Regions from separate parts of the Homo sapiens genome. Here all the other regions are linked to region 3. The links come from fine-mapping of genetic effects on gene expression. A gene starts in region 3. Each other region holds a variant in brackets. All regions are shown on one strand. Distances are from middle to middle.

What was found. PIP is the estimated chance that this variant, and not a neighbour inherited with it, causes the effect.
Region 1: its variant is the best candidate, but not a certain one, in a credible set for the expression of URI1 in thyroid (GTEx, PIP 0.73).
Region 2: its variant is the best candidate, but not a certain one, in a credible set for the expression of URI1 in whole blood (TOPMed, PIP 0.67).

The regions. Positions count from the first base shown.
Region 1 is chr19:29,881,064-29,886,700 of GRCh38, forward strand. No RefSeq gene overlaps it. Among named protein-coding and RNA genes, the nearest start is that of URI1, 58 kb to the right of the region's middle. RefSeq lists an enhancer at 1,168-1,703. The variant C/T (reference allele first, on the strand shown) is at 3,589.
Region 2 is chr19:30,058,185-30,063,821 of GRCh38, forward strand. No RefSeq gene overlaps it. Among named protein-coding and RNA genes, the nearest start is that of URI1, 120 kb to the left of the region's middle. The variant C/T (reference allele first, on the strand shown) is at 2,911.
Region 3 is chr19:29,939,450-29,945,086 of GRCh38, forward strand. It overlaps URI1 (URI1 prefoldin like chaperone), which reads left to right and starts at 2,790. Exons shown (of 11, transcript NM_003796.3): 1 at 2,790-3,215. The coding sequence starts at 3,099. RefSeq lists an enhancer at 2,536-2,625 and a silencer at 2,646-3,315.

The DNA of each region.
Region 1 (5,637 bases), 58 kb before region 3:
GGAGCCTGGGGTGGACTCTTTTTTTTTTTTTTTTTTTTTGTCAGAGACAGGGTCTCACACTGTCACCGAGGGTGGAGTGCTGTGGTGTAATCTCAGCTCACTGCAGCCTCGACCTCCCGAACTCAAGAGATCCTTCCATCTCAGCCTCCCAAGTACCTGGGAATACAAGTGCATGCCACCACACTCGGCTAATTTTTTGTTGTTGTTATTTTTTGTAGAGACAGGGTCTCACTATATTGCACAGGCTCGTCTTGAACTCCTGGGCTCATCAAGGAATCCTCCTGCCTTGACTGCCCATAACGCTGAGATTACAGGCATGAGCCACCTTGCCCCGCCTTGGGTGGACTCTTGACTGAAACACAGAACTTTAAGAGAAATGCAGAAATAAGAGAATGGGGGCTGCCATCCAATGCTTGATCATATTCGTCTCCTGCTTTGCTTTCTGATCCTGACTTCCCATGGAGGAATTCAGCCTTAGGAGCAGAAATGGGCTGTGGTTTCTAATCTGCCCCACATCATTCAGCACAGGGCTGGGCTGCGTGGCCTGTGACTAATCAGCGCTCACCCATAAGAAATGGTGTGCATCTGCAAATGTCGTGGTGTCCCTTGCAATGCCCTATTTCAGGTCTGCAGTGGGTGAGGGATGGGCAGGGAAGCACAGTGAATTATGTGACACCAGCCTGGAATGGCTTCATCCAACAAAGGGCTGACATTTTCTCTTGGTTTATTTTGAGATGGAGTCTCAAAAATCTGATTACAGATCACGCCTGTAATCTCAACACTTTGGGAAGTCAAGGCAGGAGGATTCCTTGATGAGCCCAGGAGTTCGAGACCAGCCTCTGCAACATAGTGAGACCCTGTCTCCACAGTTGCCCAGGCTGGAGGGCAGTGGCGCGATCTCGGCTCACTGAAACCTCCGCCTCTTGGGTTCAAGCGATTCTCCTGCCTCAGCCTCCCGAGTAGCTGGGATTACAGGCATGCACCACCATGCCTGGCTAATTTTTGTATTTTTAGTAGAGACAGGGTTTCACCATATCTGGTCTCGAACTTCTGACCTCAAGTGATCCCCCCAGCTGGGCCTCTCAAAATGCTGGGATTACAGACATGAGCCACCGGCCCGGCCAGGAGTGACATGTTCATTCCAAGAGCCCATCTCTGTTCCTGTATTATTTACAACGGACGCTGGCCTTTCGGACCCCCAAACATGTAAGTGGTTCTAGCTCGAGGAGAGGTGTGAGGCATGTGCTATGGGTTCAAGTCCCAGCTCTACCACTGAGTAGTGAAAGGCCTGGGGAAGCTCCTTAACCTCTCACAGGCTTACTTCCTGCCCCTGAGAAGTGGGAGCAGTGGGTAGCCCCAGGCGAGGGTGGGGGTTGGGGCAATGCCTGGCCCATAATGAAGCACCCTCTGCCGAGCCTCTGCGTGGCTGCCCCGAAGCCTGGGTGCAAGGCCCCTCTGTCACCTCTGGAGTACTTGCCTCCATCAAAGAAGGGAGCAGCTGCCTCCTGCCGGTGTTAGCCAGGCATAGGCTCTCTGCCCTCCCTGCCTGGGCTTTGTGTATTCTTGGTGTTCAAAAGGTATCTCTTGAATGATGTGTGAACAACTGGTAGAAACTCATCAGCACTTATGGAAATAGCACACCAAGTTGTCAACTGCCCGTAAACCCTTTGCCATCCCTCCGGTGGCAGCATGTTCCCCGCTGGTGGGGAGAAAGGGCCTTGCTTGGTCTCATGGACCAGCCAGGCAGGCAAGGAGGCCGCAAACACAGGACTAATAGCACCCTCGTGGCCTGCCCCCAGCCCTCATTTCAGAACGTGGCCCTTCCTGAAGCCGCTTTAGCTGGCTGGGGGAGGGGTGGGGTTGGAGGGGTGGAGACGGTAGCGGTTCTCCACCTTCCCTCTGCCCCGCTGTGCCGCCCAGCAGATGGGGAGTTAGCACGTCACAGGTGCAGCTCCACTTTGGTCACCTGGAGGCTCTGCTTGCAAATGTGGGGCTGGTGCTTGGAATTCAAGATGCCCAATAAAGGATCCATCCACAGCGGCTGCCCACGGGAGCCATCTCTCTGTGGCTCCCAGGAGCCAGGAGGGCCTGGAGCTGGGGACAGGGGGAAGTTCTGATTTTAAATTGGGGAATTCTGACATCAGCCCAGTCTCGTTCCCCAGAAAGAAACTGGTCCCGTCTGCCGTCTTTCCAGATAGTTCCTTCTGGAGCAGAAGTAGTCCAAATTCCAAACCTCTGATTACTGACATTTGCGGTTAGTTTTTTGGTATTATTTTTATACAGGAAAACTTGTTCTGAATAATGCAACTTTACACAGACACTCTCACCACTGGGCCTCACCAAGTCCTGATTTTCAAAACACTCAGAGCCCTTCCTGAGCTCACCTGAGAGATGCTGTCTTTGGAGTTTGTTCCTGATGAGTTTTAGAGAGCTTTTCTTTTTCTTTGTTTCTTTGTTTCTTTCTCTGTTTCTTTCTTTTTTTATTTTTGGTTTTGTTTTTTGAGATAGGGTCTTTCTCTGTCACCCAGGCTGCAGTGCAGTGGTATGATCTCCGTTCACTGCAACCTCGGTCTCCTGGCTTCTAGTGATTCTCCTGCCTGAACCTCCCAAGTAACAGGAATTACAGGTGTGCACTACCATGCCCAGCAAATTTTTTTTTTTTTTTTTTTTGAGACAGAGTCTTGCTCTGTCACCCAGGCTGGAGTACAGTGGCACGATCTTGGCTCACTGCAAGCTCCGCCTCCCAGGTTCACGCCATTCTCCTGCCTCAGCCTCCTGAGTAGCTGGGACTACGGGCGCCCGCCACCGTGCTCGGCTAATTTTTTGTATTTCTTTAATAGAGGCAGGGTTTCACCGTGTTAGCCACGACGGTCTCGATCTCCTGACCTCGTGATCCACCCGCCTTGGCCTCCCAAAGTGCTGGGATTACAGGCGTGAGCCACCGCACCCAGCCTCCAGCTAATTTTTATATCTACTAAAAGTAGAGATGGGTTTTCACCATGTTGGCCAGGTTGGTCTCGAACTCCTGACCTCAAGTGATCCACCTGCCTTGGCCTCCCAAAGTGCTGGGATTACAGGTGTAAGCCACTGCACCCTTCTTTTCTTTCTTTTCTTTCTTTCCTTCTCTCCCTCCCTCCCCTTCCTCCTTCTCTCCCTCTCACCTTTCCTTCCTTCTTCCTTCTTCCTTTCCTTTCCTTTCCTCTCCTTCTCCTTCCCCTTCCCCTTCCCATTCTCATTCCCTTCCTTCTCTCTCTTTCTTTCTTTTCTTCTTTCCTAAAGCAGGGGTTACACAAATTAAGGTGAACCGAATACATCTATATTTAGCAAGTGAATGCTTTAACTTCAACACACATAGATACTTCCTAGAAACCCTCCCCAACACAGCGACAACAGGCTGCATTGGGGGCTCATCAGGAATGAGTGGCCTGGGCAGAATGGCCCTCCAACCCCTCGCACTGCCCTGCCCATAACCGGCCCTGCCCTTGAGGGCTTTTGGGAAAAGGTAGGAGGGGCAGAAATAACCTTGACTTTCAGCCAAGGCAGAAGAGCCAGAGGATGGCTGCTGCTCCTGGCCTGCGCACTGCGGCT[C/T]CTGGAAGCCAAGACGGGCAGGCTTGTGTGGCCGCGGTGAGCAAGGAGGGCAGCCATCCCATGCAGATGTGTGGGAGGGGCGGGGAGGCAGCCAGGAGTAGCTGTGTCAGGCAGGCCAGGCCAAGGTCCTGGACTGGCCTCCTTGAAAAGCAGCCCCTCATCCCTGATAGCCCAGGGTTGCGGGGAGCCATTGGGGGATGGTCTGAGATGATGTCTCCGGACCCCGTGCAGGAGTTTTGTTACGACAAATCTAGTCCCTTCTCAGCTCCTATGGTGACAAGAAGCTCCAGCTATTTTATTTTGTTTTGTTTACTTTAGAGATGGGATTTTGCTGTGTTGCCCAGGCTGGAGTGCAGTGGCCCCATCTCAGCTCACTGCAGCCTCAAATTCCTGGGCTCAAGCGATCCTCCCACCTCAGCCTCCTGAGTACCTGGGACTACAGGCATGTGCCACAACGCCTTGCTAATATTTTGATTTTTAAAAAATTTATTTTTATGTATTTATTTTTTGTGTGGAGATCTGGAATTCTTGGGCTCACACGATCCTCCTTCCTCGGCCTCCCAAAGCACTGGGATTTCAGGCATGAGCCCCACAGTCCAGCCAGCTCCAGCTTTTATTTACTTTTTATTTTTTTGAGACAAAGAGTCTCGCTCTGTCACCCAGGCTGGAGTGCAGTGGTGTGATCTCAGCTCACGCAACCTCCACCTCCTGGGTTCAAGCGCTTCTCATGCCTCAGCCTCCAGAATATCTGGGACTACAGGTGTGTACCACTACACCTGGCTAATTTTTGTATTTTTTGTAGAGACAGGGTTTCGCCAGGTTGGCTGGGCTGGTCTCAAACTCCTGGCCCCAAGTGATCCCCCACTTTGGCCTCCCAAAGTGTTGGGATTACAGGCGTGAGCCACCGCACCTGGCCCAGCTCTAACTTTTAAACCTGCTCACTGGCTGGCTCTCTTCTCGACTTCTTGGGACCTGAGTTGTCCTTCATCTCTGTGACCTACCTGACAGGTGTTTCTGGGGTCCAGCCTGAAGCACCTGGCTGGTGAGATCAGAGTCCAATTCTCACCCTCTTCCCAGGACCCCCTCCCAGCTCCTGAGCCTGTCAACCCTGGCTATGCACAGCCCTCGCCTGAGAAGCGTCTTCAAAATTCTAGTGCCTTCTCCTCCCTTCAATTCCAGGATAATGGCACACACAGCACCAGTCAGGCCCTGGCCTGTGTTGCAGGCACACCTCCGATACATTTTGACCTGCATGCCAACTGCAGAACCTAAACCCAGGCAGGGGTCACTCCCCAGCAGGGTGCTGAGGTTCAAAGAGCTCGAAGGAAATACCTGCCTGGGAAGACAGGTGACAGGTGACTGAGTTCCTCTCCAGAACTTTCCAGACAATAATCAGGCTGTGTGTCAAATTCACCAAGATTTAGCTCCAGACCCAGCTGATCTGCAGCCAGGATGCTATTGGGAGCATCACTGCTTCCGTCTTTGACCCATCTTTCCACGTGGCCCCCCAGACAGAGAGCACTTCCAACCTATGCATAAAAATACAGGGGAAAGGCCAGGTGCAGTGGCTCATGCCTGTAATCCCAGTACTTTGGGAGACCGAGGCCATTGGATCACTTGAGGTCAGGAGTTCGAGACCAGCCTGGCCAACGTGGCGAAACCCCGCCTCTACTAAAAATATAAAAGTTAGCTGGGCATGGTGGTGGGCACCTGTAATCCCAACTACTCAGGAAGCCAAGGCAGGAGAATCACTTGAACCCAGGAGGTGGAGGCTGCAGTGAGCCAAGATCATGCCAGTTATACAACAGCCTGGGTCTGTCTCAAAAAAAAAAAAAAAAAAAAAAAGGGAGCAGAGCGGGGGAAGAAAAAAAAAAAAACCCAGAGAGCACTGTTATTTACCCTGATGCCTCATTTTCAAGCATGCATTGTGAATAGAGCTGACCACAGTAGCACAGGTCTCACCGTAGGCCTCCAGGAACACCCTGCAACCTCAGTCTGCCCCTCCACATTCATTTCCAGGAAACTGGAGTTGATCGTTAATTCTCAGAC
Region 2 (5,637 bases), 120 kb after region 3:
CAAGCTCCACCTCCCAGGTTCAAGCGATTCTCCTGCATCAGCCTCCCAAGTAGCTGGGATTACAGGCACGCACCACCACACCTGGCTAATTTTTGTATTTTTACGGGGTTTCACCATATTGGCCAGGCTGGCCTCAAACTCCCGACCTCGTGATCTGCCCACCTCAGCCTCCCAAAGTGCTGGGATTACAGGCATGAGGTTTGTTAGATTCTTTTGTAAGTACTTGATATTATCTGTTGATGTGGATCTCATTGCCAGGTAGCTCTTCTAGCTGCTTCTGTTTATTCTCCTTTTCTCTTAGCAGAGTATTGGAATGAGGCTGTTGAGAGCTGGGCTGAAGGAATGTTTTGGGAATGGATGGTCTGGCCCATTTGCTGTTGCCTGAGCAAGCTGGTGAGGATCTCTGCTCTGGGCTCATTTGGGAGGAGAGCCTCTCCTTTTCTCTGGGGAAGTGTCGTGGGTGCCCTGGGTGAAGCAGGGAGGAACTGGTGAAGGGAGAAACACCCAGCTAGGAGACACTTTGTAGGGAGGAGGTAGGGGCTCCCAAGATTCATGCTTGAGTACTGGCCCTGCAGTCTACCAGCTGAAGACTTCAAAAAAAGACTTAACCTCTTTGTCCTCTATTAGCAAAGGCGCTCAAAGGTGAGGTTCACAGGAGGAGATTTCTGCACAGAGTTTAGAACAATATGAGGGATTTTCTTTTTATTTCCTTACCAGCTGAGATTGGTGAGCCATTCACATTGACAGAATGCTCATGACAAATGAACAACCACAGAGGCAAAGCCAGGCTAAAAATCGTCACAAAACAGAACAGATGTTCCCACCCTCTGAAGACAGAGTTGTAGTTTCATAGGCCTCAAGATGGAAAGATTCATCCGGGGAGCATAAACTAAGGGGACACTGAGCAGTGCCGCTTCTGGGGCTTTGAGAAACTGAGTACTACTTGTTCCCTTCTATGGCAGAATGCTAAGGAGAGGAGCCGTCATTGCAATGTGAATAGAGGCAACTGGGAATTGCATTAAAGGGACTTCAAGGATCTCCCAGCTTCATTCTGCGGACAGCCAATGTAGAACCCTGCCTCAGTCCCAATCTATGTAACATTCATCTCTAACCCTTTCTTGGCCTCGTGGTAGCTTTCCTCCAATACTCCAATTGGGGCCTTTGCCATGATGACATCAGGATATTTTTTAAGTTCCCCTTGGATTGCATCGAGGCTTCTCTATGTTGCTTGAGAGGGGCTGCCCATCTTGCAAACTTTAAAGCACAGTGAAAACAACCTTCCACAAGCTCCCGGAAACTCCCTGATGCCTTTCTCTGAGGTAAAGGTCTTTAGATGGTACCTAGTTTTGTGTTAGAAGCTTTCACACCAAGCAGCCAAAAAGGCTCCATCCTCACCTGATTTGTGGTCCCCAGAAAGGAGCCTGCATTAGGCCGATAAGTCATCATCCAGAGAGGTGATGACAGTCGTCTCCATGACCATTGATTAATGAAAACAGGGCTAGTTGGACCCAGAGTAGATGGTTATAAATGGTGCTGTCAGAGAAAAATAATTATTGTATTAATAAGGAAACAGTCCAAAACCAGGCTCTAAAAAAAGAGAACTGGCAACTTAGCATCTCCATGGATTTCTGAGGCAGACTTGACGGAATAGTGGGGAGGTTGGGGGAAGGTATTCTAGCTCCCCCACCACCCGCCTCTCCAGAAGGCAGCCCCTCCTTGCCTGTGCACGTGCCCACGTCCACGCGTGGATGCGCGGTGGGTGCGCTCGACCTGACCCAGCTCTCCCGGGATGCGGCAGATGAGCCGGGGTTGCGTGGAGGCTTTCGGTACCACTTCCAGCAGGAACGGAGAAAAACGAGCATATCTTATTGTACCTGAAACACTCTATGATATGTACTAAATATTATGACTACTCGGGGCCTTGCAATAATTGATTCACCCACACAGCCATTTAGTCTGCGAGCTGTTCGTTTTACAAATTCTACAATCTTTTAGAAATTCTTTCAGTGCGGAAGATTGCTGCCTGGCCTCAGATTCATTATGGTGATTGAATCCTCTTCAATAGAGAACGGTTTAAAGAGAGCACAGGCCCCGTGCGTCTCACTCAGAGTTAAGGCGCATAGGTTAAAAGCTTGTCTGGTGGCATAATTCACTGCCGCTATGCCAAACAATCACGTCTTATTGTGACCTTCATAAGATACAAAAAGGCAACAGGATAGAGCTTGGCTTTTTTTTAAACCCACTCACAGATTTAGCTTCCCAACATCTGAAGCTTGGAGAATTCCTAATTAAATAACCAATTAATAATGTAGAATAGAAAAAGCTATTTTTTTTCTGAAATGCAAAATCATAATTAATCAGAGTACAAAAAGCTGCCTGTCTTTATATCAGAAAAATATAGACTAGGTATTTAAATATTCCACCACACCTGAACCCTGGCCATCCGTCATTGCTATGACTTAAAACATCTCAGACTAAATTAGGTTTTGTTTGTATAGAGCAGTGAAAGTCAGATGGCTTGAATGACAAAATTAGAACATGCTCAAATCACTGAGACAAAACCGCATAAAGAGAAAGATGTGCAGGAAAAGGGCTGCCAGTATGAAGCAGAAATCTTCCACTGATTTTTTTTTTTGAAAAAAAAAAAAAAAAAGCGTTCTTTCCTATTTACCCAACCACTTGGTGTAAGTATAAATTTTTGACCCCCAGGCAGACATTCCAGGAAAAGAAAAATTATCCCCACCCCCTTGTCAATTGCCCAAAATAGCATGCACAGCTCTAAACAAGTACCCTCCCCATCACGTCCCCCACCCCAGTTTCTCCACCCCGGGTTGGCCCTGGCCCTGGTGTCTACACCCTCAGCAGACCCGCCCACCGCTCCAGCCCACGCCCAGCCCCCGCCCACTGATA[C/T]TGTCAGTAACACCAGACACCAGCCGCTAAGGTTCTCCCCCCACCCACCCGGGCACTCCGCACCACCTCCAAGCGCATTTATAGTTGGAAAGAAAAGCTCATTTTTATAGGTGGTGCCACCTCCACAATTTATACTTTGCCCATGAAATACCAAAACCAGGGAGTCAATTTTCCAAGGAAGAAATTTTATAAAAACACTTTTATTGATGGAAGAGATCTGCAGAGACGGTCGCCATCTGCAAGGAAGCGAAGGCTCTTGCAGGTGCGGGTTGATCCAGGGCTGCCCAAGCGTCCCTCACTCAGGACCACGCGCCCAGGCACTAAGCATGTTATTTCTGTGTCTTCCGAACATGCTAAGCATTTCCTTACCCTCCGGCTTTTGCTCCTGCCGTTTCTTCCTCGTGGAAGTGAATATTTGAAACCTACCTGGTCTTCCCAAGGTGGCCCAGTTATTACTGTGTGACGACTTCTTCCTGGCTTCCCTGGTGAAAAGCTGTTCCGTCCTGCCTGCAGGTCCCTGTGTTACTTTGCTGATCACATTCTCCCTCGTGTCTGTGGGTGTGGACTCTACCCATGACTTCCCTGTCACCTGGGGGCCGGTGCCCTGAGCCCAAGCCAGCCCTGCATCGGGGCTGGGCACAGGGTGTACTCAGGCGATGGTGGGGCCACAGTGCAGGTTTAGAGGGGCCCTCTCTCCACCCACGATGCCACCAGCCTCTGTCCCACCCTACGCCACAAATCTCCTTCAATATATAATTTGCTGTTATCATAGCAATAAATAATTTTTGGTGACGTTTTTACTGTTGAGACTTTGTGCGGTGTTTTTTTATTGACAAAACCGCTATGAATCAACATGAACACAATAAAAACGTGAGAGCTATCTGCATTACGGCTGAGGTTTTGTCAATAGGGCAGTGCATTGATCTCCGTTCCTCTTTGGGGTTATTTGTGGAGCTTCAGCGGGTGGGTTTAGGAGCTACAGTGCTCAGGAGGTGCAGCCCCGGGCCTGGCGTTTCCTGCCACACTCCCCTGGGCACTGCCTCCCTGAAGATGGCACAGCCACAGAGAAATCTCAGCCTTGCGGGGCAAAGGGAAGAAGACAGGGAGCTGGGAGAGAGTGTGCTCACCTATCTTCCTTCCTTCCCTCCCTTCCTTCCTTCCTTCCCTCCCTCTTTCCTCACCTCTCCCTTCCTCCTCCTTTCCTTCCCTCCCTCATCAACCAAAGCAACCAGTCCATTGCCTGGCGCATCAGGAGCTGTGTCCTGGGGGCCTGGGGATCAGCCCTCGCCAGCTCTCAGGGTGCTCCCATCTGGAGGAGGCACAGACCTGCAGACAATGGGTCCTCCTGATGGGCACCGTGTCCCAGGGGGTATGGGGGTCAGCCCTGGCCAGCTCACAGGGTGCTCCCATCTGGAGGAGGCACAGACCTGCTGACAGTGGCCCCTTCTGATGGGTGCTGTGTCCTGGGGGAATGGGGATCAGCCCTGGCCAGCTTGCAGGGTGCTCCCATCTGGAGGAGGCACAGACCTGCGGACAGCGGCCCCTCCTGAAGGGGGGTGCTCAGGCACTCACCGCCACCATTGACCGAGTGCCTCCTGCACACCAGACTTGGGCTGGGGTCTGGCTGTGACTGCGGTCCCTGCTGTCAGAGCAGGGCATGGAGGGCAGGCGACGTTAAAAACATAATCACCCATAAAAGCCTGTTGCTCCCCAGAGTGGTGAGGTATCTAAGGGATGCCCCGGGGTGCTCTTAGTAGAAAGCGGGGGGTCTGCCCTGGTCGGGAGTGGGAAGGCTCCTAGATGTGGTGTCTGTACCAGGCTCACAGGAGCCTGGAGTGCTCCTGGCAGGCACAGCACCTGGAACAAGCCCAGTGCCTTCGGGGAGCTGCGAGGGGGGCCTCTGGCTGGAGCAGGTCAGGGCAGGCGAGGAACAGGGAGCCAATTGTGGTCAAGAGGGTGGGGGGTGAGGCTGGGACGGTTTCTAAAGGGGCTGGGGCCCTGAGTTTTTCCGGGCAGCAGGAGCCAATGTGACAGGGCTCCATCCCTCTGCTATCCCCACCTAGCCACCCCCTTGCTGCCACCATGGGCCTATCCTCTCCGGGATCCCTTCAGACCATCCCTGCCCAGACCCAGCCCTGGGTTACCCTCCCCGCCACCCTCCAGGTGGGAGACCAGGCCTGTACACCCTCCAGGGCACACGTCTGCTCCCCACTCTCCCCCCAGGGCCTCGCAGGGGAGCCTGCCCAGCCTCACCTGCCCACAGGCGGGAAGCACAGGGGACTGTCCCCCCATCACACCATCCCTGCACTGGGGTTGCCTCTTGCTTACAGCCCCCATCCAAATCCTACCCTCTATGGAGGCCCAACAGAACCACCCTCCTCCAGGCAGCCTTCCTGGATTGTGCTGCCTTCAGGGCAGGGCCAGGAAAGCCAAGACTCTAGGGAGGGAGAAGGGGCCTGTCGCCAGTGGTGTGGTCCCCAACCTGCCCAAGGCCATCAGATCCACCTCCCTCCCTCCCTCCCTCTCTGTCATTTTTAGGGACTGGGCTTGCCACACTAATGATGTCTGGGGGCTGCTGGTTCATGTCCCCAGTTTAGTGAGGAAAACAGACCCTGACCCAGGCCTGGGGGTCCAAGCGAGGGGCCAGCAAGGGCAGGGTAGAGCGTGGTGTCCCCACAGACCCGGGGTCCCTCCGGAGTTCAGCAGGCTGTGGAGTCGCTGGCCAGC
Region 3 (5,637 bases):
TTTTAGTAGAGATGGGGTTTCATCATGTTGGCCAGGCTGGTCTCAAACTCCTGACCTCAAATGATCCGCCTGCCTCCACCTCCCAAAGTGCTGGGATTACAGGCATGAGCCACTGCGCCCGGCCAAAGCTGATCATTTGAAAGTGTGATAAGTGCTACAAAGAAAATTTAAAAAGTGAGGTGAGGGCAGATGCCTAGAGGAGAGGGGAGGGGCTTTTGTGGACAGGAGATCAAGAAAGCCCTGTTATTATTTGAACTGAGGCCTGAGTAATGGCAAGGAGGCAACCATGGAAAGATATGGGAGAAATATTGCAGGCAGAGAGATCAGCAGGTGCAAAGGCCCTGAGGCAGGAACTAGTCTGGAGTATCTGAAGAAGAGAGAAATTGTTGTGGTTGGCTTGAGTGGTAGGGGGCTTGGTTGGAGGTGGGGAAGGTGGGTCCGACAATGCTGAATTCTAGTAGGATGTCTGGATTTGATTCTGGTTGCTGTGGGAAGCCATGGAGGGCCCTAGAAGGGAGACTGACATGACCTGATCCCCTTTGAAAAGCTCACCCAGACTGCTGAGTGGATAATAGTTTAGAGGTGTGCGAATTGGATGTCTTTGGCTGCTCATGATAGAAAATTGTCCTGGTCATTTAGAAAATTTACTGGCCTTTTAAACGGGAAGTTCAGAAGTGATGCAGACTCCAGAGCTGGTTGATTCAGCCCTGGATCAAGTTCTGTGATGCTGTCAAGGATTGGGTTCTGTTCTCAGCTCTGCTGACCACAGATCGCACTTCATTCTGAGTACTGGAGTGTCTAGGTGGTCTGGGGGGCTGTCTGATACACATGGGGCTACCTGCTTTGCACTTCCTGGCCAAGGGGATAGACTGATTCCTTATGGGAGCACTTTTGAAGAATGAGGAAGAACCTTCTCAGGAGAGGCGTGGTGGCTCTTGCCTGTAATCCCAGCACTTTAGGAGGCCAAGGCGGGTGGATCACTTGAGGCCAGGAGTTTGAGACCAGCCTGGCCAACATGGTGAAACCCTGTTTCTACTAAAAATACAAAAATTAGCCAGGTGTGGTGGCACGCGCCTGTAGTCCCAGCTACTCAGGAGGCTGAGGCAGGAGAATCGCTTGAACCCAAGAGGCAGAGGGTGCAGTGAGCCAAGATGGCACCATTGCACTCCAGCCTGGGCAACAGAGGAAAAAAAAAAGAACCTTCCCAGAAGCCTCCAGGAAGTCTCTGTTTGGACGACATCGCACACCCATTCTTGAACCAACTATTTAGAAGGGAGATGCATCACCCCCTTTGCCTGGAGCTAGGGGGTGGGTCAGCTTCCTACAGGCACAGGACTATGTGGTCGCGGGTTAAGCCCCTAAACGAGGGGAAGTGGGGTGGGCAGCAGCCGATCTCCATTACAAGGGACAAGAGTAGGGGCAGCAAGGCCAGATCAATGGTTGCTGAGGTGGCTGGGGATGGAGAGAGGATGGTGGTGGTAGAAGAGATGGTAACAATGGTCAGGTCCTGGCTGTTCCAGAGGTGATGATGGTTGGATATGCAGTGAGGAAAAGACAGGAATGAACATTTATCTTTTCCCAAGTTGTCCTTGCTTTCTTCCTTTGAAGCCATAAAAAGGAAAAAAAGGGTGGATCTGGACTTGGGAGCTGGGCAGGAGTGAGGGAAGAGAAGCAGAGCAAGCAGGCACACCAGGCTGTGACTCTGCAGGCATCTCTCTGCCTAGACTTGTCTGTATGATGTGGAACGAACACGACCCATCTTTACTGCTAGCGACTGCAGCAGATAAGGCAAGGCCACTTTCACGCAGTTAGGTTAATAGGAGGCTGTACAAAGGGCTGTAGGAGGAAGTGGGCACAGGAGTTCTAAAATAATTGGAACGGCCAGGTGTGGTAGCTCACACCTGTAATCCTAGCACTTCAGGGAATCCAAGACAGGAGGTTAGCTAAGACAGGAGGCTCGCTTAATGTCAAGACCAGCCTGGGCAACATAGGGAGACCCCGCCTCTACAAAAAATAGAAAAATTAACAGGATGTGTTGGTGCGGGCCAGTGGTCCCAGCTACTCCTGAGGCTGAGGTGGGAAGATCGCTTGAGTCTAGGAGTTTGAGGCTGCAGTGAGAAATGATGGCACTACTGCACTCCAGCCCGGGCGACAGACCAAGACTCAGTCTCTTAAAAAAAAAAAAAAAAAAAAGAAAAGTGGGGGCAAAGTTATCCTTGGAAAATTTCTTAGTCCATTCATAGCAGCATATTAAAATTAGTACAGTAGCTTAATTTATATAAGAGAAAATACAATGTGTACAGTAATTAATGAACATGCAAAATATAATTGTATATTTCAACTCACTAAAAAGGCACAGAAAGAGTTGAATTTGCTAAAATTAAATGTGCTTATGAAACAGCTCTAGTACATGAATTAAGCTCCTAGATACAGATGCAGCGCCAAACGACGGGGAGGGAGATGGGGCACTCAAGGCGACACGCGGCTCTTGTTGCCGAGCGTTTCCTGGGCGTGGAGCTTCTATAGAATGTAAGCTTTTTTTTTTTAAGGTTCCAAAGCCTATATTTAGTGCTTTCATATACGTAATCTCAAAAAAAAAAAAAGAAAGAAATATCGGCATAAAATGTAAGCTTCCAGAGGGATACAAACGCAGCCCAGCGCGGACACCGCCAGCCCCAGCCACGCGGTTCGCATCAAGCGCACTCCCCTGGGGGCGGGGCCTGCGCGAGCTGGGCGTGTCGGGGGCGGGGCCTGCGCGCTTGCTTCCGGCGTGCCGCGAGAGGCGGGGCGTGTGGGGAGGCGCGGCCGCCACGCGACGCCTGGCTGGGCCCGCACCGGAGAGGCGTCTCGGTACCTGGCAGGCGGCCTGCTACTCGGAGCCCGCTGCGGGGCGGCGGCGGCGGGGACATGCACGTGTGAGATGCGGCAGCGGGCGGCGCGGACGCGAACAGCAGCGGCGGCGGCGGGCGCGGCCTCCTGGGCGCGGGGCGCGCGGTGCCTGAGGGCGGGCGCGCGGGCGCTGGGCAACTGCCGGCCGCGCCGCCTGCGCAGGCGCTGGTTCAGGACTCACACGCCGCGCTGAGGCCCGCGGGCCCGTCATGGAGGCGCCCACCGTGGAGACGCCCCCCGACCCCTCGCCCCCTTCGGCCCCGGCCCCTGCCCTGGTTCCGTTGCGCGCCCCGGATGTGGCGCGGCTGCGCGAGGAGCAGGAAAAGGTAACTAGCAGCCCCGCGCCGCTTCCGCCTCCGCCCGCCGGGCTGCCCCTGCCTGTGCTCTGGGCCGCCGCCCCGCGTGGCCTAGGCCCAGCTGCCCGGGCCCCCGGAGGGAACGGGGATAAACTTTTGTCACGTGCTTCTGTTGTCTTTGTCTGCAGCCCTTTGACTTCGCAGCGGAGTGAGGGGTGTGCAGCCCGTTCGCCTGCCCAGGAAAGGGGGCTTCTGAGCTGAAGGCGTGCGGCAGCGCGTGGGAATTTGGGGGCGGGGGCAGCACGCTGTCAACGGAAGCGTTCGCCTTAATATTTGTAGCTTGTAATGACCTAAACATTGCTTAAAATGTGTACTGTTTGTTGCTCTTTGATTGCACGGAAAAGTTTTACCGCGTTTGTCATGATAATGCTTCCTGTGCAATATTTGGTTATTTAATATTTGTCACAATATAATGCCATTTAAACATTAAAAAAAAAAGAGAGTCTCACTATGTTGCCCAGGCTAATCTCGAACTTCTGGCCTCAAGCGATCCTCCCCCTCCTACCCTTCCCCACCTCGCCTCCCAAAGTGTTGGGATTATAGGCCTGAGTCACCGCACCCGGCTCATTTTTACAAATTTTAATTTCATCGTATAATAAATGAGTTTTAAACTACTGGTGAAAAGGGTACAAAGTTTTGTGTTTCCTAGTGGGACTTTATATAAAGAAGTATTCCCAATTTAAGAAATAGTTTTATTGTTAAATCTGATTTTTCTGTGGATTCTGTGGTCTTTCAGATTGATTCTGTCCCCTCAAGTGTCTTGAAATTGTTACTTTGAAAAGCAGTATTTAATTTGCTTAAAATATTTTATGTCATGTTTGGAAGAGCATGGATTATAAAGGGTTAGGAAGTTGCTTCAACACTATAAGCAGTTTAAAAGTTCTTAACTTTTTAATTGAACATTCCTGTATAAGAACGACTGTTTACATAGATACAAAAATATACTCAGTTCTACTAGATGGGGGTTTTGATAGAACTTAAAAAACCCTCGTTTGCTTGGAAACCACCTGTTGGGATGAACTGCGGGAATCTTTCTTTGTTCTGGTTGGTTTAAATTATTTTGTGGGTTGGATTTTCATTTCTCAGCCATTTTTCTCTAATAACGCAACTGTTAGGTTTGGAAGCCATGTTTTCAAGATGAAGGTTTAAAAATCCAGTGGCTAGGGTGGTGACTCAAACCTGTAATCCCAGCTGCTTGGGATGTCAAGGTCGTGGAATTGCTTGAAGCCAAGGAGTTCGAGATCAGCCTGGGCAACACAGGGAGACCTCCGTCTATACAAAAAAATACAAAAAATTAGCCGGGCCATGGTGGTGCACGCTTGTAGTCCCACGTACTTGGGAGGCTGAGGTGAGAGGATCACTTGAGCTCAGGCGTTTGAGGCTGCAGTGGGCCATGGTCATGCAACTGCACTTCACCCTGGGCGACAGAGTGAGACCCTGTCATTCATATATATATATATATATATATATATATATATATATATATATATATATATATAAAACTTAACTAGTTTGGCGTCTTTAAATTAGAAGACATTAATGTATTTTTTTAAAAGAGAAAGATAGAAAAAGAAGAAAGAAAAAACAGCCCCTCATGAAATCTTACTCCTTTTGCCAAAACTTGGCATTTTTTATTCTTTCAGAGAATGTGACACAGACCCTCAGAGGATGGTGTTTCTATTGCCTTTCCTCTGCTGCAGTGGGTTAATTTCACCTCCTTCAGTGTATAATACGTGCATAATGCTGACTTGATATGTTTTCTGCCATTTGGCATATTAAAAAGATATCCTTAGTTTTATTCTGATGTTAGTGTGACTGAAATGCAAAGGATACTTTTTGGGGTGCTCTGAACAGCTTTCTGGTATCGTGTTGAGTTACATTGGAAGAGAGAGTAACTGCTTTTTCAGTTACAGTCTTGTGGCAAACTGAATGACTGTTTTCTGTAGACATTGACTGTGCTACCAAATTATTTTTCTGTGTTGTGTTAATGTTAATTCGGCACACAAAATAACCACGTATATCTGTCATGGGTGTGTAAAATTATCCCCAGTTCAGGAAAAAGCGCGTCAGTATTTAATCTATCTTTATTTAATAGAAGCATTTGCTTCAGTGGACAGGAGACCCACAAGGCCACAAAATAAACTGATTAGATAGCTGCACTGTAATTATAGTGTAGTACAGGAAAACTACCCAGTAAATCGGCAGTGAAAATTTTTTGTGAAGCAATTTATTTAGGCTTTAAAGCTGGCCCAGTTGTGGGAGTACAGTGAGTTCTAGTAAAGTAGAAGCGTAGTGACATCCTGAGTGTAGAAGGGGAAAATGTCATAGTAGCTTCATATGTGGCACTTAGTATTCCTTTATGAAAGATGAATCAAACATGCTTTTAAGCTCT